Linked DNA regions of Homo sapiens. The protein of the gene in region 3 interacts with the protein of the main gene of each other region in a pairwise test. Each region holds a gene or a part of one and is shown on either strand. Other genes may lie near its edges. The genes, in order: MEOX1, KPNA3, ZCCHC10 and ZBTB14.

What was found.
Region 1: the proteins of ZCCHC10 (region 3) and MEOX1 interact in binary tests that used the Homo sapiens proteins (3 or more experiments, as listed by UniProt).
Region 2: the proteins of ZCCHC10 (region 3) and KPNA3 interact in binary tests that used the Homo sapiens proteins (3 or more experiments, as listed by UniProt).
Region 4: the proteins of ZCCHC10 (region 3) and ZBTB14 interact in binary tests that used the Homo sapiens proteins (3 or more experiments, as listed by UniProt).

Annotation. Positions count from the first base shown.
Region 1 is NC_000017.11:43,638,761-43,646,330, reverse strand, and holds the end of MEOX1 (homeobox protein MOX-1), read left to right. Parts: intron 1-2,670; coding exon 2,671-2,843; coding exon of another isoform or gene 2,844-2,854; intron 2,855-4,298; coding exon 4,299-4,421; 3' UTR 4,422-5,942; downstream 5,943-7,570. UniProt on the Homo sapiens protein: Mesodermal transcription factor that plays a key role in somitogenesis and is specifically required for sclerotome development. Required for maintenance of the sclerotome polarity and formation of the cranio-cervical joints.
Region 2 is NC_000013.11:49,781,552-49,791,087, reverse strand, and holds part of KPNA3 (importin subunit alpha-4), read left to right. Parts: intron 1-9,536. UniProt on the Homo sapiens protein: Functions in nuclear protein import as an adapter protein for nuclear receptor KPNB1. Binds specifically and directly to substrates containing either a simple or bipartite NLS motif.
Region 3 is NC_000005.10:132,995,352-133,003,952, forward strand, and holds the end of ZCCHC10 (zinc finger CCHC domain-containing protein 10), read right to left. Parts: intron 8,015-8,601; exon of another isoform or gene 7,746-8,014; intron 5,069-7,745; exon of another isoform or gene 5,045-5,068; intron 4,851-5,044; coding exon of another isoform or gene 4,823-4,850; coding exon 4,781-4,822; intron 3,500-4,780; coding exon 3,232-3,499; 3' UTR 1,634-3,231; downstream 1-1,633.
Region 4 is NC_000018.10:5,286,842-5,293,582, reverse strand, and holds the end of ZBTB14 (zinc finger and BTB domain-containing protein 14), read left to right. Parts: intron 1-255; 5' UTR 256-336; coding exon 337-339; intron 340-1,378; coding exon 1,379-2,725; 3' UTR 2,726-4,561; downstream 4,562-6,741. UniProt on the Homo sapiens protein: Transcriptional activator of the dopamine transporter (DAT), binding it's promoter at the consensus sequence 5'-CCTGCACAGTTCACGGA-3'. Binds to 5'-d(GCC)(n)-3' trinucleotide repeats in promoter regions and acts as a repressor of the FMR1 gene.

The DNA.
Region 1 (7,570 bases), on a different chromosome or scaffold from region 3:
CCTCCCCGGCCCGCTGCCAGGAGGGGGCGCGGCGCTGGCGGCGGCCAAGGCCGGAGGGCTCCTCGGGGACCCCGGCCCGGGGCTGCGCGTCCTTCCCTGCTGCCCACGCTCCCGCTTCCGGAGGGGTCTGGACCTGCCTTCTCCGGCCTGGAGCCAGAGGCCGCCGGGCAGGCAGCCCGCGCCAGGAACTCGGCCCCCTGCCCTGCTCCCCGGGCGCGCCCCGCGGGCGGCCAACCCGGATCGGACGCGGACCCCCGGGCCAGGGTGCCACGACACCCCTGACCCGGGCACCGGGACTATCGGGCCCCTCCCCCGCCTTCTCGAGTTCCCGGAACGGTGGCACCCACTCCCCTTCCATCCCCCGGCGGAGGCCACGGACGCGCAGCGCGAGGTGGGCCAGGCGCCCAAATCACTTTACCGTGCGCCTCCTGCTAGAGAGTCGCCCAGCCCAAGGCAGTGGGGCGCGGAGGCGGAGGACGGGGAAACTGAAATACAAAGGGATTGAGTGGAAAGCAATAGAGGGGGGTGCTGGGAGGGGAACCAGCTAGGCTCAAAGCTCCAAAGTGGATCGCCGGGTTAATGTGGGGTTCCTGCCTCGCCACCCACTCCCAATGCGGCTGCTTAGCCGACTGCATAGGCGGCTTCTCTGCTTTACACTAGGGGGTCTGAATTCCCCAGCCCAGTCCCCCAGGTAGCTTAGACCCGGCCTCTGAAAACAGAAGATCCCTCCTTCCAACACTCCTCGCCGGCAAGGCAGAGATGGGTCTTTCAGGGAGCAGGACGTTGGGCCGCAGGTTTCGGTAAAGCACCTCACTCGGAGCCACAGCCTCCATGTCTATAAAATGAGGAAAATGGACCGGGCGCAGTGGCTCACGCCTGTAATCCCAGCACTTTGGGAGGCCAAGGCGGGCAGATCACGAGGTCAGGAGATCGAGATCATCCTGGCTATCACAGTGAAACGTCGTCTCTACTAAAAATACAAAAAAATTTGCCGGGCGTGGTGGCGGGCGCCTGTAGTCCCAGCTACTCGGGAGGCGGAGGCAGGAGAATGGTGTGAACCCGGGAGGCGGAGCTTGCAGTGAGCCGAGATCGCACCACTGCACTCTAGCCTTGGCGACAGAGCGAGACTCCATCTCAAAAAAAAAAAAAAAAAAAAAAAGATAATTAATGAAGCAAACGTCTTTTAAATGTTAGAGCCCCGGGCTCCTGCAGCCATTCCCTGGCCACGTGGCATGCATTGCGAGTTAATTGTGTAAGTGTGTGGTCTTCTTCCCACCTCCTCTCCACCCACCACCTCCATTCATTAAAGTGAAGGTAGAGCTGCCTCCCACCCGTCTGCTCAAGAGATAACCATTCAGCCCCTTTTATTTGTTCAGGACTTTACCGTTTGTAAGCCCTTCCTAAATTTTTTTTTCAAGACGTAGTCTTGCTCTGTCGCCCAGGCTGGAGTGCAATGGCGTGATCTCCGCTCACTGTAGCCTCCGCCTCCTGGGTTCAAGCGATTCTCCTGCCTCAGCCTCCCAAGTAGTTGGGATTACAGGGGCGTGCCACCGCGCCCAGCTAATTTTTTGTATTTTTAGTAGAGACGGGGGTTTCGCCATGTTGGCCAGGCTGGTCTCGAGCTCCTGACCTCGTGATCCGCCCGCCTTGGCCTCCCAAAGTGCTGGGATGAGCCACCGCGCCTGGCCCCTACATACTTTTCATTTGAACAGTATGTGTGTGTCAAATCGCCTGAATTTAATTCTTGTCTCCCACACCCCCTGGCTGAATAAACTTGGGCAATTTGCTTAACTTCTCTGTGTTCGTTTTCTGGTCCATAAAGTGATACTAATACTAGAACCACTTGGTTGGGCTATTGAGGAATAAGAGGCTAATATATGTCAGGTACAGCACCTGGCACAGAGTGTGTCCCCTGACCCTGTTGGCAGTTATGACTGAGCCCCGCTGAATCTAACATGCAGCCTGCTTCAGAGGGCTCCAGATGGCTTTCCAGACTTGGCCCTCTGGGGCAGATTCTGATTCCGTAGGTAGGTCTGGGGCAGGCCTGAGATCCTTCAGGTCTGAACAGCTCCCTGGTGCTACTGATGCTGCTGGCACCCAGGCACTCCTTTGAGTGGTGAGGTCTTAGAGCAGCGGACTTGACTGTGCACCAGACGCATCTGGAGGGTTTGTAAAAATAGATTGCTGAGTGCCATCCCCAGAGTTTCTGACTTAGTAGGTCTGGAATGAGGCTAGGATTTGCATTTGTAACAAGCTCTCAGGTAATGCTGATGCTGCTGATCTGGGGACCATAGTTTGAGGCTTTGTTTTAGAGCATCTCACCCCTCAAGCTTATGGCCACCAGTAATGTCATGCTGGGGGGTGGGCTGGGGAGTAGAGGTCATTAAACAGCCAAGAGTAGCTTCTTATGCTTTGGGAATAAAAGAAAGTTTGGGGTGGGGGGAGGGTGGGAGGCAGGTACCTGAGATTGGAAACCAAAAATAAAAAATCTTCCCAATTCTAATATGGGTAAGACACCAGAAGGAATAAAAAGGACAGTGTAGCTTTTTTCTCAGCATCCTGTAAAAATAAGGGAGACTGGTAAAGACTGCCTAGTTGCTCAAGGGCAAAAGAAAGGGAATGGAGTCTCCCTCAGCCCATGTCTTCCTGTTTGGGGTCCTCTCTCCCCAGACAACCAGGAGAACAGAGGGAAGCCGGAGGGCAGCAGCAAAGCCCGCAAGGAGAGGACGGCCTTCACCAAGGAGCAGCTGCGAGAGCTGGAGGCAGAGTTTGCCCATCATAACTACCTGACTCGGCTCCGCAGATATGAGATTGCGGTAAACCTGGACCTCTCTGAGCGCCAGGTGCGCCCCCGGTGGGCCCCTCCTCTTCTTTGCTCTCTCATCTCCCTCCCTTCCCTCCTTTCCCACCACCCCTCCCTGGACCTTCTCCTTTTTCTTCCTCCAGCCAGTCCAGCGGTTTTCAACTGTGGCCACACCTGAGAATAGCCTGGGGAGTTTTGGGTTTTTTTGTTTTTTGTTTTTTGAGACGGAGTCTCGTTCTGTCGCCCAGGCTGGAGTGCAGTGGCGCGATCTTACTGTAACCTCCACCTCCTGGGTTCAAGCAATTCTCCTGCCTTAGCCTCCCAAGTAGCTGGGCTACTGGCGTGCGCCACCACGCCCGGCTAATTTTTGTTTTTTTTTTTAGTAGAGGCGGGGTTTCACCATGTTGGCCAGGATGGTCTCAAACTCCTGACCTCAGGTGATCCGCCCGCCTCGGCCTCCCAAAGTGCTGGGATTACAGGCGTGAGCCACTGCGCCCGGCCCCTGGGGAGATTTTAATAGTGCTGATGTCTGGGCTCCACCCCTAGGGATGATTTTAATTGGCCTAGGATGGGATACAGGCCTCAGAATTTTTCAAAGGCCCCCTAGGTGATTCTCACATGCAGCTAGGTTGGGACCTACGGTCTGGCTATTCCCAAATTTGAGTATATGTTGGAATCCCCCAAGGCACTTGTTCAAAATGTGGATTCTGGAGGTCCGGAGAGAGATTTTACCATAATGAGTGGGCCTGAGAATCTGTATTTCTAGTACATTCTCCAGGTGATCTGGATATGCAGCTGGTTCCTGGGCACACTTTGAGAAAAACTTCCCTGGCCCTTTGTTTTGGACTTTCCCTTCAGCCACCCCACACCCCCACACCCATGCTCTGATACGGAATAATAGTAATAATAACCGTAATATTTGATAGCAGATTTCAGTTGACAGAGCACTCTGCCAGAGGGCTGGATATTGAATCAGAAGACTTAGATTCAAATCCTGCCTCTATCACTTTTCCTAGCCCTGGGACCTCTGGGTCTCCATCTGTAAAATGGGATCATAATCCTGCAGGTAATACTCAAGCTCAGATGAGAAAATGTGCTTACCAGAGCTATCTAAACCAAAAAGTGCTCTATAAATGTGCCTAAGGATAAGGCTGATGACCTCTGCTCCCAGACCCTTGGGGAATGGAGGTAGGGGGCAGGGGGACCTGGCACAGGCAGGGCAGGGCATGTGAAGGGGGTGGGGCCAATGCAGAGTGCTTTTAGAACATGTTCCCCCGTCTGGGGCTTTATCCGAAGCCACAAGACAGACCTCTGGGCAGATTGGTATGTCCTCTCTTCGGTCCTAGTTCCTGGGGCCTTTGAGGGAGTAGGGAGTGGTAAGTGATGGTTTCAAGCTGGGGTCCCTGGAGTTACACCCTGGCTAGCCTAAGCATTGACATGGGGAGGAGGTCACACCGGCCCTGGAGTGACCAGGCTCCTTTGCTTCCTCCCCCAGGTCAAAGTGTGGTTCCAGAACCGAAGGATGAAGTGGAAGCGTGTGAAGGGAGGTCAGCCCATCTCCCCCAATGGGCAGGACCCTGAGGATGGGGACTCCACAGCCTCTCCAAGTTCAGAGTGAGATTCTGCATGGAGGAAAAATGACTAAGGACTGAGCCCCCTACCCAACTACCCCCACCCCAATCCCACCTTCACCCTCTTCCTTCCCCAGCCAGGGCAGCCTCTCCACATCTTTCCCTGACTCTTGGATATGAAACTGCCCAGCATTCCTGGGAGTCTTAGGATTTTCTAGGAAGTTCTGTCCAGCCTCTTAGCAGCCTCTTCCCTAGGGCCTTTGCTCCCACACTCTCATGGAATCAGACAGAGATCCTACCGGGCCGGATGAATCTGGAAACAGCTTCAGAGATACTGCTTCTCAGCGTCTCTTGGCTGCCACCCATGCCTCCTCCTACCGCTGTTCTCCTAGGTCAGCCAGGCCTCCTCCTGGTCTGGACACCACCTGGCCTGGTGGGAGAGGAGCTTTGGAACCAGCTGGCGACTCGGAAAGTAAATGCTTCAAAAGGAAGGAAATGACAGAGACACACGCCCTTGCCCACCTTCCTCTGTAGGCTGCACATCTGAGGCTTTGGGGCCCCTTAGTTGTCCCGAAACCCCAAGAAAAATCAGAATGAGGAGAGTCAAGGACAGCAACTCAGCTGCTGCAAGCCAGAAACACATCCCTGTCTCCAAATTTGTTGGCTAAGTGGAGACACTTCTGAGAACTGACTAGAGAAGACAGAAAAATAGCCCGATGTAGGTTTCGGTGTCCCCATATAGGCCCGTCCACACAGGCTTGACTGGGTGGACAAGAATGAACCCATGACAGCACCTGCTGCTTCAAAATCAAAATCAATTTAGGGATACAGCAGGGGCTGTTGGGCTGTGCTCCAGAGAAAAGGAGCAGCTACTCCTTTTAAATCCACGATTTCTGGATTGAAAACCTGTCCAGATGCTGAGTTGTTGGGCTGAACAACTAGGAGCTGAAAACAACGTAGAGGCTGGAAAGTGTCCCCTGCATTCTGGAGGGGAGGGGAGATAATAAGGAGGGCTGCTGGGTGAGGGCCTGGAGATGTGGAACCCTGGAGTGGAAGGTTCTCCAGTGACAGTGTCCTGTGACTGCAAAAGGGGACAAGAAAATCCCTCTTCCTCCATGGGATGGATTTAAGCTCTTGCTGTGTGTTCTACAAATGCTGTTATTGTGGGAGGAAATGCTAGGTTTTTGTGTGTGGACTGCCCAGACCTCAGCCAGGTCTTCTGGAGATGACATTTGAGGACTGATGGCCAAAGAGCATGGGGGACTGAAGCCCTGGCTGCCTCAGCGCTCTGTCTCCCAACACCAGCTGGTGTTGCAGAGGGAGGTCAACGTGAGTTTGGATCTCTTGTACGCAGATGTAATCATTCACATGTAAAAATAACCCCACCTCCCCACCCCAAAAAGGGCAAGAGCTGTGGAAAATGATTGCCAAATGAGATGGCTGGTTAGAGCATGATTTTTTCTAAAGCATACTTCATATATTTTCTTAAGATTACATCAAGCTAATTGTGCGAGCTCAATTCACTTTGTAAGAAAACTCTCGGAGAAATAAAATCAATAAAAAGCAAAGTTCCCAGGCCTTTTTCTTTGCAGAGCGAACAACCACAGCTCTTGTGTGCAACCTTCTGATTGACCAGACAATGTCTAGAAGCAAGAGAAAAAGGGAAGAAATGATCTAGACAGAGCTGTCCCCCTTTAGTTTTTCAAAAGGTGGGTACAAAATATAATTGGTGCCAAAAAAAAATTTTTCTCCAATGCAAATGCATGGTCTTCATTTCTCATTGTAAAAGTTTAGCTTTCAGTTTCCCTAAACTATGACCTATCAAATAGTCAATGTTTTATAAACAAAAGATGAACTCTTTTGTTAATAAAGGAATCTTGACCACAAAGTAACCATCCCTAATGTTTAAATTCAAAGTTTGGAGATTTTATTTTTCAAGGTAGAAAAATGTATATTAATAGTAGTAAAAAATGACATAAGAAAAAATATCCCATATTTTGTCTTTTTTTTTTTTTTTTTTTTGAGACAGAGTTTCGCTCTTGTTGCCCAGGCTGGAGAGCAATGTCTTGGCTCACTGCAACCTCCACCTCTTGGGTTCTCCTGCCTCAGCCTCCTGAGTAGCTGGGATTACGGCCATGTGCCACCACGCCCAGCTAATTTTTGTATTTTTAGTAGAGATGGGGTTTCTCCATGTTGGCCAGGCTGGTCTCCAGCTCCTGACCTCAGGTGATCCACCCGCTTTGGCCTCCCAAAGAGCTGAGGTTACAGGCCTGAGCCACCACGCCTGGCCTCTATGTCTTTTTAACTAAAAAACAATTTGTCTCACCAAGATGTCAACAATGGACAAAACAGGACTGGCTACGGTGAGGGGAGAGAGGGAGGCAGGAGGGGAGACCTGGCCAGGATCTTGCAATGAGGCAGCCTGGGCCAGGTGTGGGCAGTGCCTGGAAGTGACATCACCAGGACCTGGAATCAGGCAGACCCACCAAAATGAAGGTGCCAAATGGAAGTGGGTTCAGTGGCTCAGGTTCAGGTTCACAGCCAAGCAACATGGACACGCTCAGTCACCCCCGTCCACCCTCCTGCTGGAAACTCAACTCTGTGGCTTCAGGGGACATCACCCTCTTCTGGCTTTCCTCATCTGTCCTAGATGTTCCTTCTCTGTCCCCCATGCAAGCCCCTTTCTCGATGCTTCTGCTCTCACAGCTGGTTCTCAAGGTTTTCTCTTTCTTCCGCCACCTTCCCTATTTTTCAATCTCTCCCCAGATGATCCCATCCACCTACTTTTTTTGTTTGTTTGTTTTTTGGGACAGTCTCGCTCTGTCGCCCAGGCTGGAGTGCAGTGGCGTGATCTTGGCTCACCACAAACTCTGCCTCCCGGGTTCAAGCGATTCTCCTGCCTCAGCCTCCTGAGTAGCTGGGATATGGCTAATTTTTGTATTTTTAGTAGAGATGGGGTTTCACCATGTTGGCCAGGTTGGTCTCAAACTCCTGACCTCAGGTGATCCTCCCGCCTCAGCCTCCCAAAGCGCTGGGATTACAGGCATGAGCCACCACGCCCGGCCTATGTTTTTTTAAATTGTTGTAAAATACTCTAACATAAAATAAAAGTTATCATTTTAACCGTTTTGAAGTGCACGGTCCCGTGGCATTAAACATTTTCTCATTGTTGTGCAGCCATTGCCACTATCCATCT
Region 2 (9,536 bases), on a different chromosome or scaffold from region 3:
AATGAGTCAAATAAAGATCATATATTCTTTCCTGGTCATGGTTAAATACCCTTTGTAAGAAATACATCTAAGCGAAAGTAAAACTTGGGAATAGGAACAAGAAATTTTGGAACTGCCTCCTGTTATTGGTCCACTTGATGACAAGTGTTAATTTTGAACTTTTCCCATTAGGAATTTTTCTTGAAGCCTATCCTGTTCCAAATAAAAATTTATTGAAAAATACTCATTGTTTGTACAGAAAAACCAGTAACATTCTTCTCTCGGATATTGGTACAGGTTTTTGTTTCATTGTTTACCTCTATTGTGTTCTGGTAGCTCAGTGATACTTAGTAAGGACTCCTGCACATAATAGGTACACAACAAATATTTGCTGATAAGAATGTAACCCGTGACTTTTAGATGCATGAAAAAGAGCATGGTTGCTAAGCCATTCAGCCTGGTATTGGTCACAACATTACATTTCTCGGGATTCTATAGTGTAACTAAAACATGAAATAGACATTCAAATGGTAGTTCTAATGTGGCAGACACTGTTACGAGCTTCATGATACCTTATTTAATCTGTGTAACAAGTATATGAAGTGTGGCATTATCCCCACTTTACATGAGTAAAGTATTTTTTGAGACGGAGTCTTGCTCCTTTACCCAAGTTGGAGTGCTCAGGCACTCATAGCTCAGCTGCAAGCTCAAACTTCTAGGTTCAAGGAATCTTCCCACCATGGCCTCCCAAGTAGCTGGGACTACAGGCGGACACCACCACACCTGGCTAATTTTTTAATCTTTTTTAGAGACGGGGTCTCGCTTTGTTGCCCAAGCTTGTCTTGAACTCCTGGGCTCCAGTGATTCTCCCGCCTCGGCCTTCCAAAGTGTTCGAACTACAGATGCTAGTCGTCACACCCAGCTGGAACTTTAGATAAAAAACCTCAGTGTGCTTATGTAGCCTGTGCATGTCACTCAGTGGATATGGGTATTATTTATTCACTAATTGTCTATTGGGTATCTATCAATGTTAGGTCTTGGGGATAAGGAATAAGATGCAGTCTGTACTTCAGGGAGTTTACAGTCCAGTGGGGGTGATAATTACAATGCAGAACAACAATTGTTACAGTATAGTATTCCGAAAATGCATGCCAAAAAAACTACTTGGAGGTGAGCAGAAAGGGAAGATACTCTGGTTGATTTCTAATGGATGAATGGGAGTGAGCTGATTGTGAAGGATGAAAGAAAGGTGGCCAGGCAAAGGGCGGGAGAAGGCTGGTGGAAGAAAGGGGCATTCCAGACTAGAGGGAGCAGTAATTGAAGAGTCCTGAGAGAAATGTAGGAGAGAGAGAGACTAAAGGGTAAACTGGGGTCAAATCTGATGAAGGGCCTTTATTGGGGATTTAGGCATATCTAAGAGTAGATAACCATGCTTAGTCTTGTCCATTAGAAACAGTACAACTTAGCTCTGTAACTGAGTAGTTGTGGTTATCAGGCTGTTCCAAAACAGTGAGATGCACTTTGATAAGCTATGATGCCTATTTTTTCACATATAGGATAGACAAAAACTAAAACATGTTATAAATTATAGAAGCAGCTGATACACAAGATGTTAGGTGCAAGAATAAGATCCATACTTGTTAAAGAAAATAAAAGGATAGAGTTATGCCAGGGGATTTGAGTAGAGAGAGGGTTGAGGAAGAAAATTTCTTTGTCATTCAATCGAGAGAGACTTTAAGAGATCTTTGGAGAGGAAAAAAAAAATGAGGTTAGTGAATCTTATAGGAAATATGTACCAAACTTAAAAGGGGCATGTTAACTGGTGAATAAATATCCAGGTAAAAAAGAAGAGTGATTATATTAAAGAGAGGAGACTTCCAGGTGGCCTGTGTTGATGCAAGAATATCTTGTGGCAAAGAGTTGCTTGGAAGCTTTTTCTTAATAGGGAGATGTGAAGGAATTTATTCCAGAGCAAAGAGGAGATGTAACATGATTAGAGCAATGGAAAGGGTGACAGGGCAGTAATACCTAGAATTCATTTTGGAGAAATAGCGCTGTTGTCTGATCTGCAAAGAAGAGTTTTCCAAAAAATTGAGACTGGGAATGGCTACAACCTGGAATGAGGATTTGATGATGCTGTTCTTCCTCCCTCTTCCTCCTCCTTCAAATTCTCTTTATAAAGATCACTGAAGAGAAAGGGAGTAAAGGTTATTCTGAGGTTTATAAATGGAGGAAGGGAGGGAGTAATTATCATCACTGATAGAAATTTGGAGCTTGGGTAGGGGATGCATTTTGTAGCAAAAACTAGGAAGTACATATTGAAAGGGAAACATTTCCTTTTATTTGTTCTGGAATGTGCTTTTTTTTTTTAAAAAAAAAAAAAAAAAAAAAGAGGGTCTGGCTCTGTCGCCAAGGGTGGAGTGCAGTGGCCCAATCTCGGCTCACTATAACCTTCGCCTCCTCCCAGGCTCAAGCCGTCCTTCCATCTCAGCCTCTTGAGTAGCTGGGACTACAGGCACATGCCACCACACCTGGCTAATTTTTGTGTTTTTTGTAGAGACGGGGTTTTGCCATGTTGCCCAGGCTGGTTTCAAACTGCTAGCTCAAGTTATCCTCCTGCCTTGGCCTCTAAAAGTGTTGGGATTAGGGGCATGAGTCACCATGCCCGGTCCTGGAATGTGCATTTTAATGCTAGACCTTTTCATGTAAGGCATTGATTCTTAAAAACTTTTCCTGTTTTCAAAGATAACTTATAGAAAAGTGTGCAAAACAGAAATGTTCTGTTTAATGAATAATTACAAAACAAATGCTCAGGTAACTGCAATCCAGGTCAACTCATTTTCTTGCTGCTGTATACCTCAAGGGTGTGACATTTTCATTAGTAACAGTAATTAATTATTTTAAAAACCTTAACATTTATTGTTTACAGTATATCAGTGCTAAGTACTTTATATAGATTATCTATTTAATCTTCACAACAGTCCTATATCAAGTAAGTACTATTATTATCCCCATTTACTGCTGAGGCAACTTGAGGCCTACAACCCTTAAGTAAGTGGCCTTAAGTCTTCCATCGGGTGTTAAGTGGCAAAGCCTGGACTTACAATATATCAAAGCTTTATGCTAAGCGGCTGGGCGCAATGGCTAACGCCTGTAATCCCAGCACTTTGGGAGGCCGAGGCAGGTGGATCACCCGAGGTCAGGAGTTCGAGACCAGCCTGGCCAACATGGTGAAACCCCGTCTCTACTAAAAATACAAAAATTAGCCGGGCATGGTGGCGCGTGCCTGTAGTCCCAGCTACACGGGAGGCTGAGGCAGGAGAATGGCGTGAACCCGGGAGGCGGAGCTTGCAGTGAGTCAAGATCGCACCACTGCACTCCAGCCTGGGCGACAGAGCGAAACTCCGTCTCAAAAAAAAAAAAAAAATACAAAAATTAGCCGGTCCTGGTGGCTCATGCCTGTAATCCCAGCTACAAGGGAGGCTGAGGCGAGAGAATCACTTGAACCGGGGAGGCAGAGGTTACAATGAGCTGTGGTCATGCCACTGCACTCAAGTCTGGGCGACAGAGTGAAACTCTGTCTCAAAAACAAACAAATAAAGCTTGATGCTAAAGCTAGAACTCTTGCTTACTGTGCTGTACTCCACCGAAGGGAGTCTAAGACTTGACATGTACAAACCACGCCTGAAAGTTAGTGAATGGGGAAAATATTGAAGAAATATCGACTATATCACAGAAATTGCTATTTCTATACTTTAAAACCTTGCAAATTTTTGATGAACTTTACTATTAGATTTATTTGCCTTTTTATCTTTTTACTCTTGCAAAGTTTCCTTCTTATCAGCAAGGAGCCAGTTGGTTGGTTTTACCAAAAAATGATAATCCGTATCTTTGGGCTTAACACTTAAGCTTTATGCTTTAGTTTCTGATACCAGGGCTAATATATATTTTCTCACCTGCAAAATTCAGTTAGCTCTACCAGACTTGCTTCTGTCTCTGGAACCTCCAGTGCTAAGTGGCACTATCTGATTGTCCAAGTTTAAGATTCTATCCTTGACTCCCTTCTCTTCCCCTCCTTCACCCTTCTTTGTATTAGTTATCTGAAGAACCCTCATGTTTGTACCTGTTACCAACCTTACTTCCTCTGCCCCTAGTTTAGACCCTTATCTTTGTTGCCTGAACAAGTATAATAGTGTACCTAGCTCTTCTGTGTTCAGTATCTTCTCTCCCCAGTGTATCTTGTGGATTGATCTTTCTCATATCTTTCTGTGTTACTTTCCTGTTTATGATCCTTCCCATTGACTTCAGGATAAAAGTCCTTAGCATGCCACACATAGTTGTAAGACCTTACCTTTTTTACCTCACCTTGCACTTTTCCTTATATCTCCTTTGTGCCAGCTGTGATAAAGTACTGGAGATGCTTGAGTAACCAGTAGTTTCTTCTTCATGCCTTTGTATATGCTGTTCTGTGTGCCTTCTTTTGACTATCTGTTGAGTTGGGGTTCACTCTGGCAACCTATCTCTTCAGTGAGACTCCTTCATATATCTCTGGAACACCAAGATTACAATTCTGCCACACCATGTCATTCTAGTTAAAAACCAAAAACAAAAAAAAACTTTAAAAGTTCTCCATGAGCCTTTCCTGACTTACAGTATACTTGGTACTATCAGTCCCTATTCTTTTCCTCCTCTCTAGTGTTTTCCTAGGTGAATTTTCCTTCACCTATTTGGGATAAATTGCTGTGATGTACAACAAATTCTGTGTTTGTATAGCTATTAAAGTATTTGGGCTCTGTTGAGAAGCTCAGTGAGAATAGATACCTTGGATGTAACTTGAAACATGAAACTTAATGAGAAGAGAGACTAGATGATATACCTGAAAAAAGTCTACATTTGGGAATGAAAGGTTCAGTATTATTCTAAGACATTAATTTTCTTTTGGTGTTGACTCCATGGCATTGATACTGTTGCCTAGCCCTCCTTGAACAGCCTGTTCTCCTATAATGTATTTCTGTAACATGAACTCGCTCATACTTGAATGGTTAATAAAAAAATGTTAAGGCAAAGTTCATATTGGTTCATATGTGATTTTTAGTATCACATTAATGTTTAGCACTCTTAAATAACAACAGTTGAACATAAAGTACAGAAACAGTTGAACGGATCAAGCCCAGGAGTATGCATATTGGCCATGCACCCATGTTCTGCCTCTTGGCTCTGTTTAACCATATGCAGTGTCTAAAGGTGCTTAACGACCATCCATCCTGTGCATTTCCCTCTTCTTCCTAAGTTTGGAGAGTGTAAAGTGTTTCAGGAATCTATATGCCATATAGCAAACAAACTTTTTTTTTTTCATGAATTCACTAATGGGGCATATACTGCTTCCTGGTTCTCTTGGAGTACTCTTTTTCAGTCAGCTTTGGTAAGTCTTCTTCCTACCCTTTGAATGTAGTAGGCATGGCTTGGGATTCTGTCTACGATTCTTTTATCTGTAGACTGTTTTTCTTGCTCATATCAGCAACTCCCTTGGCTTTAATCATCATTTCAATGTGCGGGGACTTAAATTTCATAAAATCATCTGCTGGAAATTATTCACATGAGCATCTTTTTAGCTTCTCAAGCTCAAAGTGTTTAAAGCCATGTTCTGCCTTTGTTTTTTCTTTTTTCTGTTTATGGCATCATCACCCTCACTGTGACCTGAATTTGAAACTTGAGAGGCTTCTTGGACTTCTCCTCTTCCACATTCAGTCAGATGCCAGTTATGTAGCTCGAATCTCTGTGCTGTCTCTGGATTTTGGCCCTGCCTCTATATTCTGCTGCCTCCAGCCTACTTTAGGCCTTATTACCTGTCACCTTCCTGTTTAAAAACTATCTCCAAAGTGGTTTTCTTCCTTTAGTTTATGAGATTTTTCAGTGAGCCTGATGCCTGATTATTTCTCCAGATTCAGCCTTCCTCCCCCACCCCCTTAAGCCCTAGCAACACTGAACTTCTTATATGCTTATACATAATCTGGAATCCCGCCTGCCCCTCCTCGCCAGTGCTATTTCTATTCTCAGGGCCATCTTGCTGACTGGAATATCCTTCTCTGCCTCCTGTTGCCTGGCTAATTCCTACCACTTTTAAATACTCAACTCTGGGTAGGTACCATTCTTTGCTCCTGGAAGAAGTCTGAGTGTATCTTTCTCGTTGCAATTATGATAATGTATTTTAATTAGATTTTATTTTTCCTACTAGATTGTGAGCTTTTTGAGGGCACAGACTATGTATCTTCATTGCCTACCACTTAGTACAGTGGCTAGAACCAAGCAAGCACTAAAATATTCCTTGAATAAATACATCGTAGGCACCGCAGACACAATAATTTTTCCCATGTGTATTTTTGAACTGAAATGTTTACTCTTTTAGTGCCTTTTCCTACTGCTTCCCAAATCAACTCCAAGCTTTTTATTATGACAGGTAAAGTTCTGGGAGATTAAGGTATATACATAGTGAATGAATTAGTGATTAAGGCTAATTTGTATGGCTAAGTAACATTCTATTGTATGTATATACCACATTTTGTTTACCCATTCATCTATAGATGAATACTTGGATTGTTTCCAACTTTAGTCTGTTGTCTCCCAACCATTTAAAAATGCCACTAATTTGTTCGGGTCAGTTTTCTTTTATTAAATTGCACTATATGAAATTGCTTTTTTCCAGGTTTGTAACAACAGCCAAGTATTGGCAATTTCATATTTAGCCTAATAGACTGTCCTAATTACTGGGTTTGTCTGTTTCCTTCTGGTGGTGCTTAACTGGTTCCTCTTATTTGTTTTTTTACCACCCTTCAGATTTTTTGTAATCTGGAAGTTTTTTTAAAAAAAAATTTTTAAACATTATTTTTGAGACAGAATCTTGCTGTTACCTGGGCTGGAGTGCAGTGACACGATCATGGCTCAAGCGATCCTCCTGCCTCAGCGTCTTGAGTAGCTAGGACTACAGGTGCACACTACCATGTCCAGCTTATTTACTTTTTGTAGCGATGGGGTCTTGCTGTGTTGCCCAGGCTGGTCTTGAACTCCTGTCCTCAAGCAGTCCTCCCTCCTCAATCTCCCAAAATGCTGGGATTATAGCCATGAGCCACTGAGCCCAGTCTAAACTGGAAGTTTGATTTAAAGTCTTGATTAGCTTCAAGTTAAGCTTCTATTAATTTATTTAAACTTCAGTTGGTGGTAGTGTGTACCTTAGAATATATCTCAGTAATGATAATAAGAATGATCGTAGGGTTCAGGTGATAAAGAACAAATAGTTTAATGCCATCAATGTGAAAGTTACTTAACAGTTTGTGAAGTGAATTTTAGTTATTTGGGGGAAATGGGACATGAAATTGATGACATTTCAAGAAGTGGAAAAAAAAGTAACTTCTTGGTATCCAGTAAAGGAGTTACAAAGTGTATATCTAGAACTTCTAACTTCAGAGTCAGTAGGATTTTCTTTCTATGACTGACACCACTCCTCAGTTGACCTTTTGTTTAGTTAGCATACGGTTTGGCTGTACAGCTGGCCCTTTGTAACCTGTGGATTCGTAGGGCTGACTGTACTGTGCCATTTTATAGAAGAGATTTGAGCATCTGCAGATTTTAGTATCTTCGGGGGAGGGAGCATCTGGAGCCAACCCCCCCGAGGATACAGAGGGAGGACTGTATTCTCATTTTCAAGTGGAGGTGAAGGAATATTAAAAGTATAAGGAGGATGTAGCTATCCTTTCTTGCAGTTTTGCTGTTAAGAAAAATTTTCTTACAGCATAGCCAACATCAGCAGTTAAAATATGGTAAAATAAATCATGACTATATTTACTTGGAATTAATCATTCTTGGTTTTCTGGGTTAGGGAGGTTGTATACATACTAGATTTTACTTTATTTTGACACTTGCCTTAAATAGAATATAATTTAGTTGTTTTCTTGGTTCTTGAGAATCACCATTATGCATATGGATATTGGGTTTTGCTTTTACATAAGTGATGCCTTCAGGTTGTTAAATTAACAGAATTTTCTTCTTGATTTTTACGCTTGTGGAGTTTTTGCTCTTCTTAATTTTTTTGGCTTGTCCTTCCCTTGCTTTTGGTCTATCAGCTTTCTTTTGATACTGTCAGCATATTTACTTGTGGTAGCCCCTATGTTTCTTTTTATTTGATGCTTTACATATTCTAGTGACTTGGGAAACAGATTTATTAAACATTTATTTAGCTTTTTTTTTTTCTTTGAGACAGGGTCTTGCTCTGTCACCCAGGCTGGAGTACAGTGGCACAATCACGGCTCACTGCATCCTTAACTTCCCAGGCTCGAGTGATCCTCTCAAGTAGCTGGACAGGTGCACGCCACCACGCCCAGCTAATTTTTTTATTTTTTGTAGAGACAGGGTTTCGCCGTGTTGTCCAAGCTGGTCTCAAACTCTTAGGCTCAAGTGATTCACCTACCTCAGCCTCCCAAAGTGCTGGGATTACAGGCATGAGCCACCGCGCGCAGCCTATTTAGTATTTTCTACATGCTATGTAGACATCATTAGGTGCCAAAGATTATAAATATGAAAATATTCCCTGATCTAAGGAAGTTCAGTTTAGTGGGAGAGACTGATACTTAAGCATATGGCTAGTGTACAGTGTGGTAAGTTCTATGATACAGGTAGATAATTTGTAAAGTACTATAAGAGTATAGAAAAAGTGTGATTGTACCTGGGGAAATTAGTAAGGTTACACAGAAGGTCATACTTGAGGTAGGTCTTGAAGGATGAGTTTGCCAACTCAGAAAGAAAAATAGTATGAATAACAGTGACTGTGTCATGGAGTCTAAAGGCTTGGCATGTTTAAGCTGCAGCTGATATGAGGGGCATTGTATCCATTCCCCCTGCTTTTGGAAACAACCTTCTGATTTGGCCTTTGGAAGCTACTTTTCTGCCATTGGCTATCTTATGGTGGGATTTTTAATGTAGGTGCTCCTGCCTCTGATTAATTAATGTGCCTCACATTTTTCTGGCTAACACAAATTAGGCTAATTTGTCCCTGGCATTTAAATCTTGAGTGAGCTGATACTGAGACCTAATTGATTCATCTTGACAGAAGTACTGTGAAGGTAACCATCCGTTAATTCCTGCCGGCTAGATATGTGGGAGTTGCTTTCGTAGGCTTGATTCTTCAGCTTTGTCTTGGTTTTGTGAATTACTCTATACATTCTACCAATAAATTCACTCTTCCCTTTATTTCTTCTTAAATTTACCCAAGTCAGTTGCTGTTGTTTGCAACATAACTCTAAGGTGATCAACTGTCTTGGTTTGCCTGGAACTGAGGTAGTTCCCAGTATACAGGACTTTCAGTGTTCAAACAGAGAAAGTCCTGGACAAACCTTAACAAGTTGATTGCTCTAATTGAAACAGTTTGGGCATAAAAATAATGAGTTCTCGGGATCCAAGTGTTGTTCAGATGAAAATATTCAGTATGCAGCTGAAAACAGTGCAGAACTAGCTTGCTTCAGTTATGTCACTCAGCAGCTATTCGAATTCTTTACTGAGTGTGAGGG
Region 3 (8,601 bases):
ATGCTGGGATAACAGCCGTTAGCCACCGCGCTCAGCCTGGAACCACCTTAATCAAGTGATCAAGGTCAACATTGCCAGTAATAAATAAGACACATGAACATTATGAATCTCATGATATGATTGAGGACATTCCATTTCCGTAATATTCTTCCAAAAAGCATAACCTCAGTTCAATCACAAGAAAATATCAGACAAATCCAAATTTTTTTTTAGACAGTCTGTCACCCATGAAGGAGTGCAATGGCACAATCTCGGCTCACTGCAACCTCCACCTCCCAGGTTCAAGCGATTCTCCTGCCTCAGCCTCCTGAGTAGCTGGGAGTACAGGCGTGCGCCACCACGCCTGGCTAATTTTTTTGTATTTTTAGTAGAGAGGGGGTTTTACCATGTCGGTCAGGCTGATCTTGAACCACTGACCTCAAATGATCCAGCCACCTCGGCCTCCCAAAGTGCTGGGATTACACGCGGGAGTCACCACGCCCGACCAAACAAACCCAGATTGAGGGGTATTAGACAAGATAATTCTTCAAAAGTGACAAGGGCATGAAAGACAAGGTAACACTGAAGTATTGAGACTGTAGTAAAGGTAGAACTAAAAGTATTTCTGGGTAGTATTCTGGAATATAAAAAGGATATTAGTGGGAAAATGAGCAAAATATGAATAAGGTTTTCAGTTTAATAGTATTTTACTATGCTATAATAGGATGTCTTTAAAAAATAGTATTTTACTAGATGTTAAATTTCTTGGTTCTGGCAATTGTGACATGGTTATGTAAGACGTTAACACTATGGGAAGCTAGATGAGGTTTATAAGGAAATTGTACTATTTTTGCAACTTTTCTATAAATCTACAGTTCAAAATTTAAAAAGAATAAATATGGCTAAGAATATGAAACACCCTCTCTGCACTTTTTCCACTTCCAGCGTTAACTTATGGCTAATGCTGTATTTTCATTCTAGGGTAAAATTGCTATATAAAGTCTATTAATATAAACAAAATGTGTGTGGAATGAAAACCTATGATCTAACGACTCCTTTTGATATGAATGTGGTTAAGTAACATACTCACTACATTTGCCAGGGACTCAACTTCCAGAGTCCTGCCTTTAGGCAGGACTAAAAATAAAACTCTCTAGAAGTTAGTCTCCACTTTGCCATTGATTCTGTTTTTTGTTTTTTCTCACTCTGTCACCCAGGCTGTAGTGCAGTGGCACACTCATGGCTCAGTGCAGCCTCAACCTCCTGGGCTCAATCTATTCTCTTGCCACAGCCTCCTGAGTAGCTGGGACTATAGGGGCACATCACCATGCCCAGCTAATTTTTTAATTTTTTGTAGAGACAGAGTCTTACTATGTTGTCTAGGCTGGTCTCATATTCCTGGACTCAAGTGATTCTCCCGTCTTGGCTTCCCAAAATGTTGGGATTACAGGCATGAGCCACTGTGACCAGCCTGATTCTGTCATTTTGAATGAAATGTGTGACTAGAAGAACTGAGTTCCTGCTCTCTGTACCTCTGCAGTCATACTTTTAACAGCCATAATAGTAAAACTTTAAAATTGGAATTTGTTCAAATGTCTTTACACCTCAAATGGAATAACTGACATTAAATAAAACACTAAAGAGATAACAGAAGTTTAAGCTTGTGAGCACAAATTGTGAGTTTTATTTAACTGCAAGTGATGCAACCTATGTAACACATTCTTTTCTCATCCGTGTTCTTTAACTGCTAATATTACCTTTACAGAGACAAACATTATAAAATGTGCCTGATTGGTAATTTATTAACTCTATCTGTCAAGTGATAATATTCTGTAGGCAGCCTTTGAAATGATGTTTTGAGAATTTATTTACAACCATTGAACACAGATGGTTTTGTAAAACTGACAATTACAGGCTCCTTAAACTCACAACATACATATATTTCAATATTTAAATAGCCTGTTTTCTTCAAAAGTAATTTTCTACTGCTTTTTCATAAAAATATAAAAAAGACAACATTTATAGTTTTAAAAACCTATATTTAACCCAAATCAAATTTTTTCTACAAATGATACCTCTTTCCAAAAAGTTAAAAAGACATCACAGAATACTGTGATGTTAAACCAAAGACTCATCACAATAACAGCATTTTACTTTTAAGAAATATTGTGCAGTATCTCCTTTTTAACCTTTCATGCTAGATTTCAACTATGTATATCCTATGTAAACACACCAGATTAATCCTAGTCATTCATATATATGCAGTAGACTGTCATATATGACCAGTTACCATACAAACTATAATACCATATTTTCAAAAATAGCAAAAAGCAATCTTTATGAAAGCTTAAAAAAAGCTTTTAATAAAAGGCGACCAACATTGCCCTAATTTTCAGTAAAAATTACCTCTTCTTCCTACCTTTCCCCCTGCTTTGAATGGTACCTTTTATTGCATGTTAATACACAAAGATATTTCTAGCACTTCTATTTAAGTTAGCCTCTTACATGGCTGCTTTCTTTTCTGATACACTGACTTTTAACAGAAGGCACCAAGATTAGACTCCTAAGAAGTTTCAATTTTTTTGTCCCTTTTTAGGTTCCTCTAGAATAATTTTCCTCAGAAAAGGATAACTTGAAAAACTTAAGGAACCAGAAGAAAATGAATGACGTAACACAGCAATTTGAAACTTACAGCATTCAAAAACTATAAATATATTAATAGGCTCCTTGAACATACCACTTAGGACAAAAAGTCAGATAACTTTCTGAACATAAATGTAAAAATAGAGCACATTTATTAATAGTAGGAAAACTCCTAAGCTTACAGTAACAACATATTAAATCTTACATAACATACAGCCAAAAGCATTAGAAATCCACTGCCAGATATCCTGACGCACCATCCTGAAAATATGTCTGATACATACCACTAACATATATAACAAAGTATGGCATTTATTTCACAGAGAGAAAAGATAGTTTCATCACACAAACAGATTTGCAGATTTCAGCTTTAAGTTCTAGAGATATATTTTAAAGATAAAAAAAACAAGATTCACCCTTCAAATAAAAGTCTCTCTCTATAAGCCATTATTAATATTCTCTATGCTCTTACAATGTAAAACATTTAGAAACTTTTGAATTCTAGAAATGTTCACCAGTTAACCTACTTGGCCTTAACATATTCTAAATTCCCTTTCAAGAATCACATCAATGTTTTCAGTCCATCAGTCCAATATGAATGGAGCAACTCTATTTCTTTTTCTTCTTCTTTGGTGGTTCATCGTCAGAGCTGCTATCTGTGCTGGTGCTACTGCTACTGGAAGAGCTGGAATCTGAGTCTGAATCAGAGGAGGAGGAAGAGGTTGTGGAGGAGGCTGAGGATGAGGAACTAGAGGAGCTTTCATCAGTGTCACTGTCCTCTGAGGAGGAAGAGGTAGATGTTTCTTCACTCTCTGATGAAGAATCACTGGCAGAACTGTCACTGCTACTGCTACTGGAACTGGTTACACTCTTAGACCTATTAGACAATACAGAGTTATATACATGGGAAGGTGACATGTAATAGAATGTTAAAAGCAATTTCATTTTTTTTTTCTTTTCGAGACAGAGTCTTGCTCTGTTGCCCAGTGTGGAGTGCAGTGGCACAATCTCAGCTCACTGCAACCTCTGCCTCCCAGGTTCAAGAAATTCTCTTGCCTCAGCCTTCCAAGTAGCCAGGATTACAGGTGCGCACACCGACGCCCAGATGATTTTTGTATTTTTAGTAGAGACGGGGTTTCATCATGTTCACCATGTTGGCCAGGCTGGTCTCGAACTCCTGACCTCATGATCTGCCCGCCTCAGCCTCCCAAAGTGCTAGGATTACAGGCGTGAGCCACCGCGCCCAGCCAAAAGCGATTTCATATGATTCCATATATATGCTTATATATTGAAGCTTTGCTAGCATGTTATCCTTAGGTTTGATATTTTGGAGATTGCCTGTTGTAAACCACAGTCCCTCTCTTTACAAGGCATTGTTACTTCAGCAACTTAATTCTCTTGGATGGAATTCAAGATAAGCATATCTACTATATTACATTTCAGAGGGAATAATGTCAGAATAAAGCTGCAGTATAACAATTGGGTCTATTTAAACCTCACGTAGCTTAGCTGGTGACTGTTTCATCATCTTTATTTTAACTACTTCAGACCAGATATGGCTGGCCAACAATTTCTTACCAGTCTATTAACACTTCCTATTCTAAGCCAAGAGAAGACAATTATTTATTGTTTCCACGTACAAGGACTCTAGAAAGTTGGAGTAAAAGGAGAAATGGAAGCAATGCATTTCCAGACAGGTTAAAAAAAGGAACTTATCAGAAAATAGGATGATTATTTAATTATAAATTGCAGTAAGAGGCTTCAGATCCAAATCTTATAGCTATTTTTTTTTGAGACAGAGTTTCGCTCTGTTGCCCAGGCTGGAGTGTAATGGCATGATCTTGGCTCATGGCAACCTCTGCCTCCCAGGTTCAAGCAATTCTCCTGCCTCAGCCTCTCAAGTAGCTGGGATTACAGGCATGTGCCACCACACCCAGCTAATTTTTCTATTTTTAGTAGAGACACGGTTTCACCATGTTGGACAGGCTGGTCTCCAACTCCTGACCTCAGGTGATCCACCCACCTTGGCCTCCCAAAGTGCTGGGATTATAGGCATGAGCCACTGCATCTGGCATAGCTATTGTTTTAAAATCACCTTTCCCATCCCGCCAATTAGTATTACATGTTATCTATAAAACACTGCTAAAACCACACATACCTTTTTTTCTTGGCCTTTCTTTCTACATTGGTTTCTCCAATGCTGATAAACACGAGGGGGAAAAAAGCTCCTGTTAATAGAGTGATTATACACAGCTCAGACAAGCCCTTCTACTATCCCCCAAATCATTTTACTCTGGAGAAAGATTCTGTGTTTTTATCACATACAGAGTACAGTATTTCTTATTATAAGCAAGTGGAAAGTCTGCCATTGTAGGCTGTATACGGTACATGCAGTCAACTTAACCAGCATTTAAGCAAGACAATGCATCTTAGCACGTGTATAAAAGTCAGGTAGGTTAGTAGTTAAGATGATTAAATTTTTTTAGTCTGGAACTTAGGCTGATATAGCTGTATCACTACCTCCTGAACAACAGAACAAAGCTAATAGCACAATAGCCCTAATTTGTAGTTTGAGTTCTCAGAATCATACAAATAGCCATTTCATAATTTTTCAAAAGCAGCCCTTTAATTTAAAATAACTATTTCTTTTTCTGCATGTCCCGTTATTTACTTTTTTTTTTTTTTTTTTGAGACAAAGTCTTGTTCTGCTGTCCAGGCTGGTGCAGTGGCGCGATCTTGGCTCACTGCAACCTCCGCCTCCTGGGTTCAAGGAATTCTTCTGCCTCAGCCTCCTGAGTAGCTGGGACTACAGGTGTGTGTCACCAAGCCCGGCTAATTTTTACATTTTTAGTAGAGACAGGGTTTTATCATACTGGCCAGGCTGGTCTCAAACTCCTGACCTCATGATCCGCCCACCTTGGCCTCCCAAAGTCCTGGGGATTACAGGTGTGAGCCACCCTGCCTGGCCGAGTTATTTACTCTTTAAAGACCAGAAATGTAATACTTCAAAACTATGCTCACTCACATTAGTTATAAAGTCTGGTAAATTTGAATGAAAGGGACAAATAGCTTGCTGCTATTATTCTGTCAAACAACATGCATACTAAATCAGGTTTTTAAATTACACAATTAGGCCAGGTGCGGTGGCTCACACCTGTAATCCCAGCAGTTTGGGAGGCCGAGGCAGGCAGATCATTTGAGGTCAGGAGTTCGAGACCAGCCTGGCCAACATGGTGAAACCCTGTCTCTACTAAAAAAAACACAAAAATTAGCCAGGCTTGGTGGTGCATGCCTGTACTCCCAGCTACCCAGGAGACTGAGGCAGGAGAATCTCTTGAACCTGGGAGGCAGAGGTTGCAGTGAGCTGAGATCGCACCATTGCACTCCAGTTTGGGCGACAGAGCAAGACTCTGTCTCAAAATAAAAACAACAACAACAACAACAACAAGAAAAAAACAATTAATTCTATCACCACTGTCCTGTAAATTTAACTTTTTTTTTTCTTTTTGAGATAGGGTCTCACTGTTACCCAGGCTGGAGTGCAGTGGCATGATCTTGGCTTACCGCAACCTCTGCCTCCCAGCCTCAAGCAATCCTCCCACCTCAACCTCTGGAGTAGCTGGGACTACAACACGCACCACCATGCCTAACTTTTGTATTTTTTGTAGAGACGGGGTTTGACCATGTTGCCCAGCCTGGTCCTGAACTCCTAAGCTCAAGCAATCTGCTCACCTCAGCTTCCCAAAGTGTTGGGATTACAAGTGTGAGCCACCACACATGGCCAATGTTTTTATATCCTGGCCTTCTCTATATTTCCTAGATAATGCTTCCATCATTGTTTCCTGAGTCTCCAAACATAAACATGTATTTATGTAAAGTTTTTTACACAATGGAATTACTTACTGAATTGTCATTTTGGGCATAAAATAAGAGGGTGAAGTATACTTATTAAATTATAACTGAATCAAAATTCAGCAATCTTTTTTTTTTTTTTTTTTTTTTTTTTTGAGATGGAGTCTCCCTCTGTCGCCCAGGCAGGAGTGCAGTGCTGGATCTCGGCTCACTGCAAGCTCCACCTCCCGGGTTCATGCCATTTCCTGCCTCAGCCTCCCGAGTAGCTGGGACTACAGGTGCCCGCCACTATGTCTGGCTAATTTTTTTGTATTTTTAGTAGAGACAGGGTTTCACCATGTTAGCCAGGATGGTCTCGATCTCCTGATCTTGTGATCCACCCGCCTCAGCCTCCCAAAATGCTGGGATTGCAGGTGTGAGCCAAGGTTCCTGGCCAGCAATCTTTTTTAACAGAGCCAGATTCATGTAATTATATATATTTTTAGACCAAAATACTTGTGAGATACAATTAGAAAAACAAAAGTAAATGTCAAAATAAAATTTTATTTATGTATTTATTTTTTGTAGAGGTGAGACTTGCTATGTTGCCCAGGCTGGTCTCAAACTCCTGTCCTCAAGTGATCCTCCCACCTTAGCTTCCCAAAGTGCTAGGATTATAGGTGTGCGCCTAAACTAGAATGAAAATTTTCATAACCCGTATTTCATTCTTTAGGACAGGGGTCTTCAAACATTTTTTTGCTTACATTCCTAATAAAATAATTTCTGGAAAACTCATACTTGCAATTCTAAGTTTTAATATTTGCAAAGGGCATATTATATACATATTATAAAAAGTTCTACAATAATTTAATACCTATTATTCACATAAGAACATATGAACATTTTTAACAGCTGATACTTTTTCTTTTTTTTGAGGTGGAGGCTCGTTCTGTCGCCCAGGTGGGAGTGCTGTTGCATGATCTTGGCTTACTTCAACCTCTGCCTCCTGGGTTCAAGCAATTTTCCTGTCTCAGCCTCCTGAGTAGCTGGGATTACAGGTGCCCGCCACCATGCCTGGCTAATTTTTGTACTTTTAGTAGAGATGGCGTTTCACCATGTTGGTCAGGCTGGTCTCGAACTCTTGACCTCAGGCGATCCACCCACTTCGGCCTCCCAAAGTGTTGGGATTACAGGTGTGAGCCACCACGCCCGGCCTTTTTTTAAGAAACAGGGTCTTGGCAGATACTACTTAGCCCAGGGCCTGGTGGCTAGGCTGGTTGTCTCCTTTCCAGTTGGAGGCTTCTGCTGCAAACATTCTCCGCCAGATCATGGGTCAGGCCAAGAAGCATGCGAAGTTGATCCCCCTTTTTGTATTTATTGGAACTGGAGGTATTGGAGCAGCACTGTTTCTCTCGCCTCTGACATTGTTCAATCCAGATGTTTGTTGGGACAGAAAGACTAACCCAGAGCCCTGAACAAACTGGGTCCCAATGATCAATACAAGTTCTACTCAGTGAATGTGGATTACAGCAAATTGAAGAAAGAAGGTTCAGATTTCTAAATGAAATGTTTTACTATAAAGCTCCTTTAGAATGAAGGTCTTCCAGAAGCCATCCGCACAATTTTCCACTTAACAGGAAATATTTCTCCTCTAAATGCATGAAATCATGTTGAGGTAATCTACTGGAGATTACACTGATTAATAAATAACTGAAAGTTGAAAAAAAACCCAAAAAACCCAGCATCTTGCTATGTTGCCTAGGCTGTTCTTAGACTTCTGGCCCCAAGTGATCCTCTTGTCTTGGCCTCCCAAAGTGCTGGGATTACAGGCATGAGCCACAGCATTTGGCTGATAGTATAAATTTTAATAACTATTACATTAAAACAAACTTATTGGTAATGTGTATATATATATATTTTTGGCGAGATACAGTCTCACTGTATCACCCAGGCTGGAGTGCAGTGGTGTGATTTCAGCTCCCTGCAACTTCTGCCTCCTGGGTTCAAGTGATCCTCCTGCCTCAGCTTCCCAAGTAGCTGCGATTACAGGGTGCACCACCGCACCTAGCTAATTTTTGTATTTTTAGTAGAGACAGGGTTTTGCCATGTTGGCCAGGATGGTCTCGAACTCCTGACCTCGAGTGATCC
Region 4 (6,741 bases), on a different chromosome or scaffold from region 3:
ATGGTTCTCCAACCCCTCCTTCCAGTTCCTAGGGCACAGCCCCTTTATGCCCGAGTGCTACAGCCCTTATCTGTTCTAGTCCATATCTGTTCAGAACTGCACTTGATGTACCAGCTACCTACCTGCCACTCTCCCCAACCTGAAAATGCACAAAAGAGGGAACAAGAAAGTTTATTTTTAAAAAATCAATTCTTGGTTTAGGATTTGGGATACAGGAAGATCCTACCTCATTCTTGTTTATCCTTTCCTCTGTAGGTCTGGCGTGCTCCTGATCAGAGTTACTCTGATCTGAAGATTTTGGCGTTCAAGGCATTAAGATAATAGCCTGAGTTGTTCATGGTAACTATAACTTTGGATATTAAATCTTGATGAAAATGACTTGGCATTTGCTTTAAAATATATATACCAATTCTGATTGTGCATGAACACTTCTATTTGTCTGGGGGAAAATATTAGCCGAATAAAAGTAAAACAATGTTTTTAAAAAGGAAACATAGAGAATGCTTTAAGATGACCAGTTTTTTAACATGATGACAGAGATCTTTCATGCCAGTTCCAAATTTTTGCTTATAAAATACTCTCAGCACTTATCAAGTACTTACATCTGGTGTTGATGGCACTTTTATCTGGATGCAGGTAGATTGGCATCTAGAGAGAACAAAGCCACTTCCCAAATGTCATCTCATTCTCTTAAGGTCAGATTAAACCTTGACCTTCATTTAGAAGTGGCCCAAAAGTGCTGTGGAAAATCTAGAACACAACACTCAATGGGATATTTTGGCAGTAATGTTCCTCTCTAGTTCTGCAATAGTAATTTGTTCCTTCTGTCAAGGAGGTATAACATAATTATTTTGCTGAATCCTCCATAGAGTAGATGGAATAAGAGTAGGTGCAACAGAGAGGACTAGAGGATTGTTCCCTTGAACCTGTTTCTTAAAACTTGAGTTTGAGTTATTTGATTATCTCTAGTCAGGAAGCACTGGTTTTGCAGCCAGATTGTCTGCATTTAAGTCCCAGCTCTTCACTAAATAGCTATAGAATATTGGGCAGATTTCTAACTTTGTCTCTAAAATAAGGATAGTGATACGTACTCATGAGGTTACCTGAATATTAAATTAATTAAAACATGTAAAGCACATAGAACAATGCCTGGGATATAACTAGGCAAATACTTAGTAAATTGAAGATGAACAGGAGTAACAATATGGAGATCCTTGAGTTGGGATCAGTCTTTTCTACCCATATTCAAAGACCACTCTTAACATTGACTTTCTGAAATTGTTAGGTTCCATAGATTGACCAGGAAATGAAAATGTGACTGTGTTCTCTATATGGAAAAGTACTATTTATAATTACTAAACTTTTTTTTTTTTTGTAGGAGTTTTTCATCAGTATGTCTGAAACCATTAAATATAATGACGATGATCATAAAACTCTGTTTCTGAAAACACTAAATGAACAACGCCTGGAAGGAGAATTTTGTGATATTGCTATTGTGGTTGAGGATGTGAAATTCAGAGCACACAGATGTGTTCTTGCTGCCTGCAGCACTTACTTTAAAAAGCTTTTCAAGAAGCTTGAGGTTGATAGTTCTTCGGTCATAGAAATAGATTTTCTTCGTTCTGATATATTTGAAGAGGTCCTGAACTACATGTACACAGCAAAGATTTCCGTGAAAAAAGAAGATGTTAACTTAATGATGTCATCGGGTCAGATTCTTGGTATCCGATTTTTGGATAAACTGTGTTCTCAGAAGCGTGATGTGTCCAGTCCCGATGAAAACAATGGTCAGTCCAAAAGTAAGTATTGCCTTAAAATAAATCGCCCCATTGGAGATGCTGCTGACACCCAGGATGATGATGTAGAGGAAATCGGGGATCAGGATGACAGTCCTTCTGATGACACAGTAGAAGGCACACCCCCGAGTCAGGAGGACGGCAAGTCGCCCACCACAACGCTCAGGGTTCAGGAAGCGATCCTGAAAGAGCTGGGGAGTGAGGAAGTTCGGAAGGTCAATTGCTACGGCCAGGAAGTAGAATCCATGGAGACCCCAGAATCAAAAGACTTGGGGTCCCAGACCCCTCAAGCCTTAACATTTAATGATGGGATGAGTGAAGTGAAAGATGAACAGACACCAGGCTGGACAACAGCCGCCAGTGACATGAAGTTTGAGTATTTGCTTTATGGTCACCATCGGGAGCAGATTGCCTGCCAGGCGTGTGGGAAGACGTTTTCTGATGAAGGCAGATTGAGGAAGCATGAGAAACTCCACACGGCGGACAGGCCATTTGTTTGTGAAATGTGCACAAAAGGTTTCACCACACAGGCCCACCTGAAAGAACACCTAAAAATCCACACAGGATATAAGCCCTATAGCTGTGAGGTGTGTGGAAAATCATTTATCCGTGCCCCAGACTTAAAGAAGCATGAGAGAGTTCACAGTAATGAAAGACCGTTTGCGTGCCACATGTGTGACAAAGCCTTCAAACACAAGTCTCACCTCAAGGATCATGAAAGAAGACACAGAGGGGAAAAGCCTTTTGTGTGTGGCTCCTGCACCAAGGCATTTGCCAAGGCATCTGATCTGAAAAGGCACGAGAACAATATGCACAGTGAAAGGAAGCAGGTTACCCCCAGTGCCATCCAGAGCGAGACAGAACAGTTGCAGGCGGCAGCGATGGCTGCGGAAGCAGAACAGCAGCTGGAGACGATAGCCTGTAGCTAGAGGCGGTGGGACAGGGACACTTTGCCTGGAAAGTGGAGACTGAGATGACGTGGATCATAATGAGTGAATGCCAGTTACAATATTTTTGTGGAAACGTATGGAACATTGTACTCACTGGACTTAAGGCAGTGCTTGGTTAGCTATTTTTAAGACTTTTCAAGGAAATGGTGTTCCTCAGTTCTGACCAAACCGTTTCACTGTCTTGTCTGGTGTCTAGTATTAATGTTGCCCAGTAAGCACCTCTCTCCCTTTTTTTTTTTTATTATTTTAATTTGAGAACTCCTGTGTCCAGTTTAGAAGTGAGAGACTTCCATTTTTAGTTCCTTTACACTCACCACCCTAGCAAGTGCCCTGCACAGAGTAATAAGTAAATTGATTTCCTAATCACAATTCTATGTGACTTATGGTCAAAAGAGCAGTTTTAATAACTTTAAAAGTACTTCAGATAGACGCAGAAAATTGGTGAGTGGTTGACCAAGAACACTGCACAAATATAAAAAAAGTTCTGGAAATGCAGAATGGCGTTAGATTTATATTTGGTTTGTTAATTTTATATCACTGTTTTTCACTGTTTTTGTGGACAAATAATGGTTGCTTTGCTGAAGTGTTCTTCCTCAATCTTGATTGCCCTGTACCTACCCAAAAGCTGTAGTCACACATCCTAAAGGCCAAGCAAACCCACCGGGATGGTGGGGGGTCTTGGAGCCAAGCTCTTAGGTTCCTCTTATTTGGGGCAGTACCAGTCCATACCAGCTGCGATTTGTGAGTGGACCTGTGGTAAGAAGAATAGAAAAGGCTCTCAGAGATAAGGTTTTTTACATGTGTAACAATCCCAAGATTTCCTAGATTAAAATCTTAATTGATTTTGAAATTGGATTTTTATTTAGAATCAAAATTAGGACAAGAACAGATAACTTCTTCAGATACATTTGTGTAACTTTACAGAATGTCATCAAGCTTTGGGGCTCTGTGGGGCACATGATTTATCCATAAAGGAGATGCAGTATGCTTACTTAAATTAATAAATTTAAAATCTTTTAAGTGTGTAAATAGTAGTGTTGGTCTTACGTATTTCAAGTAAAAAGTAGACAGCTGCACTTTTTTTGCACATTGGATTAAAATAACTTCCATCAGCAACAAACATCAGACTGTTTTTAACAAATATTAAAGATTGTCAGACCAAATGTTTATGTTTTCGAAATATATTTCATCACTGGTTACAGTTTTAAATAGAAGTTGATTGCCTTTTCATAGCCGTAAATGAGAATTATAAACTCTATTCCAGTTTTGGTATACTAAATGTTCTTTTAACCATCTTTAGGAATATATTGAAATGCCAACAATAGTTTGAATTGTGTTCTGTAAAAAAGTATTAGTCAATTATTTTTCAAAATGTAGAATTGTAGAAAATGTCAATTTTTCAAACTCATTTTTCATTGCTAGGATTTCTTTTAAAAAAATTAAAGTAATTTCACTTCATAGCTTGTTGCATTAACACCTGTAATTCTATTGTGAAAGAAATTTGATTTTTTAATTGGTGTGTGTTATGCCCAAGATGTTAGGATGAAGATGCTACCTTTTTAAAAATTTTAGTTATTGGTAAAATGTTTAATTTTACTTAAAATTAATTTCTTTTCTTGAAAGTTGTTTATTCTGTTCTAAAAGTAGTCCTGTCACTGTGTTTTTATGCTACTTATAGAAGGGGAACTGATTGCCGTTCCTAGGCTGTTTTAACCAAAGCAAAGGAAAAATAATTTTAACATCTTGTCAATAGCTACTTCAACAAACCATATTTTGGGACTTCATTTTTTGTATATAAAAGAAAATATACTTCTATCATTCCTCTTTTCATTTTTTCATAGCAACCTTCCACATACCTAGATTTCTACCAAAATGTATTTTGTATGCTAGCTTCATCCTGGCTTTACAGAGTTGAAGTTAAACATGTGATATTAACCTCCTTTGAAACCACATAGTCATGGTGGTAACCCCCAAAAAGAAAGGTTAATTTTCAGCAGTCTATGTGATGCAAATATTTATCATTTAGCCTATTTTGCATGAGAAATGTATTTGTGTTATTTCTGCCACTGGTACTGGGTTTACACGTGTGTTAGGGCACCTGTTTCCTTTATATATTTTTGGTGGCAGCAGAATCCTATCATGGCAGCTCTCCTGTCTGCTGGGTCCTGGTCAGTAACACTGCCTCTCTACACCTGGCTGGATTTGGTAGTCCTCTGCATAGTGGAGCCATCGTGTTAGAGTCTTCAAGTTACCTCCAACACCCTAGGGAGTTAATTCTGAAATGTGGTTACTCTGAATCTGTAATGTAAGAGGAAGGTCAAGGCTAAGTGTCAACATTACTACCTTTTCATTACTTACAAATCATTGACTTTTTTCTGTTTTTACAGAGAATGCTACAAACTTGATGTTAGCTTTTGTGCTTAATTTGCATTGTATTGGCACTGATTGAGGAAGAGAAATTTAGGAAGTTTAAATGTAAAGTAATTTGCCGGCCATTAACTTGATCACTAATTTAGAATTGTTAGAAAATACAGAGGTCGCCATCAAGTGAGGTTGACACTAACAAATTCACCCTATTTTGTTAGGAAAAAAAAGACAAGATGAGGGAAAATGATGCAAATTTATGTAGTTTCCAACTTAATGGGTTATTTTGTGTAGTTATCTGTAAGTCATTTGGAAGGTGGGATTCATTGTCACATAGTAATGCTATTAGTGGTGTTTTGTTCTCAGGATTAGCAAGCCTTAGGGTGCAATTGTAGTAGAGCTGGCACATAGTAAGGATTGTGGTGCAGGGTTGAGTCCTAGGCGGAGGCAGAGAACTGTTACAGCAAAGAGAACGGAAAGCTCTCACTCCCTTTGAAGTCTGTCTCCATTTTTGCTTACCCTCTTGTAACTGGAGCTCTTTCCCCCTGGGAACTATTTATAATAGGGTTAATCCTGCATCTACTTAAGGTATGTAAAGATAGCATGTTGCCTACTTGTGTTGAGCATCATATGCGAGGCACTGGGCTGGACCCTGGAGATGCAAAGGCAGAAGCAGTTTGGTCCCTGGCTGTTAGAGTGAGTGTGCCCCTTCCCAGTCTGGTCTTACATGTTCTTTTTGAAAATGTTTTTCCATCACCTGTTATCCATGATTCCTTAAAGGTTGCCATACTGATCTCATCTTAGGGGCCCTGGGTGTAATTTATCTGGATTGTGACAGATTTTAGCAGTTGGGTGTTTTCATGATCTCTTCAAAAGATGTTCCCACCTACCAATACTCATTTAAATCTTTTCAGTATAACGAGGAGGTGAGGTTTAGTGGAAAGACTTTACAAGACAAACTTAGATTTGGATCCTGGTTTTGCCTCTCAGTAACTGCAAATTCAGACAAGTTCTTAACTGCCTTCAGCCTGAGTTTCACCATCTCTAAAATACTGGTATTTCTGCCTCACAGCCTGCTGAGGATTAATGTGATGGCCAGGAAAAAACATTAACCCCAGCATCGACACTTTTTAGGTTCACTGTAAATGTTCCCCGCTTCCTAAAGAGCATTCCCAATGGAGTAGACAGAAGCTGAGAAGCATCTCTCAGTTCTACAATCATTGGCCCTCAGCTGTAGACCTAGACCTCATTAAGTGTTATTAACTGAAAATGTCTACACTGTGTTTGTCTTAGTATTTCTGTAAGCTTCGGTCCATTTGTGGCTCTGGTCTTACAAACTTGTATATTTGTCTAAATGTTGTCTTTGATTTTGTAATTTCCCATCGTGTACATTTTAAAGTAAATCATTGGAATGTAGTCGGTGTAAACACTGGCCTCTCTGGATGGCTCCCTTCTCTTCTTTGGGAACATCTGTGATGGCAGAACCAGAATGGCAGAACCAGAATTGCAATTTTGAGAGCTGGCTTTTGAATCTCATACATGAAATCATACATTAAGATATTTTTGCAGTATGCTTTTCTAAAATTGGGTGCATTTCAGGCTGCACCCAACTGTTCCCTTTCTAGTTAATT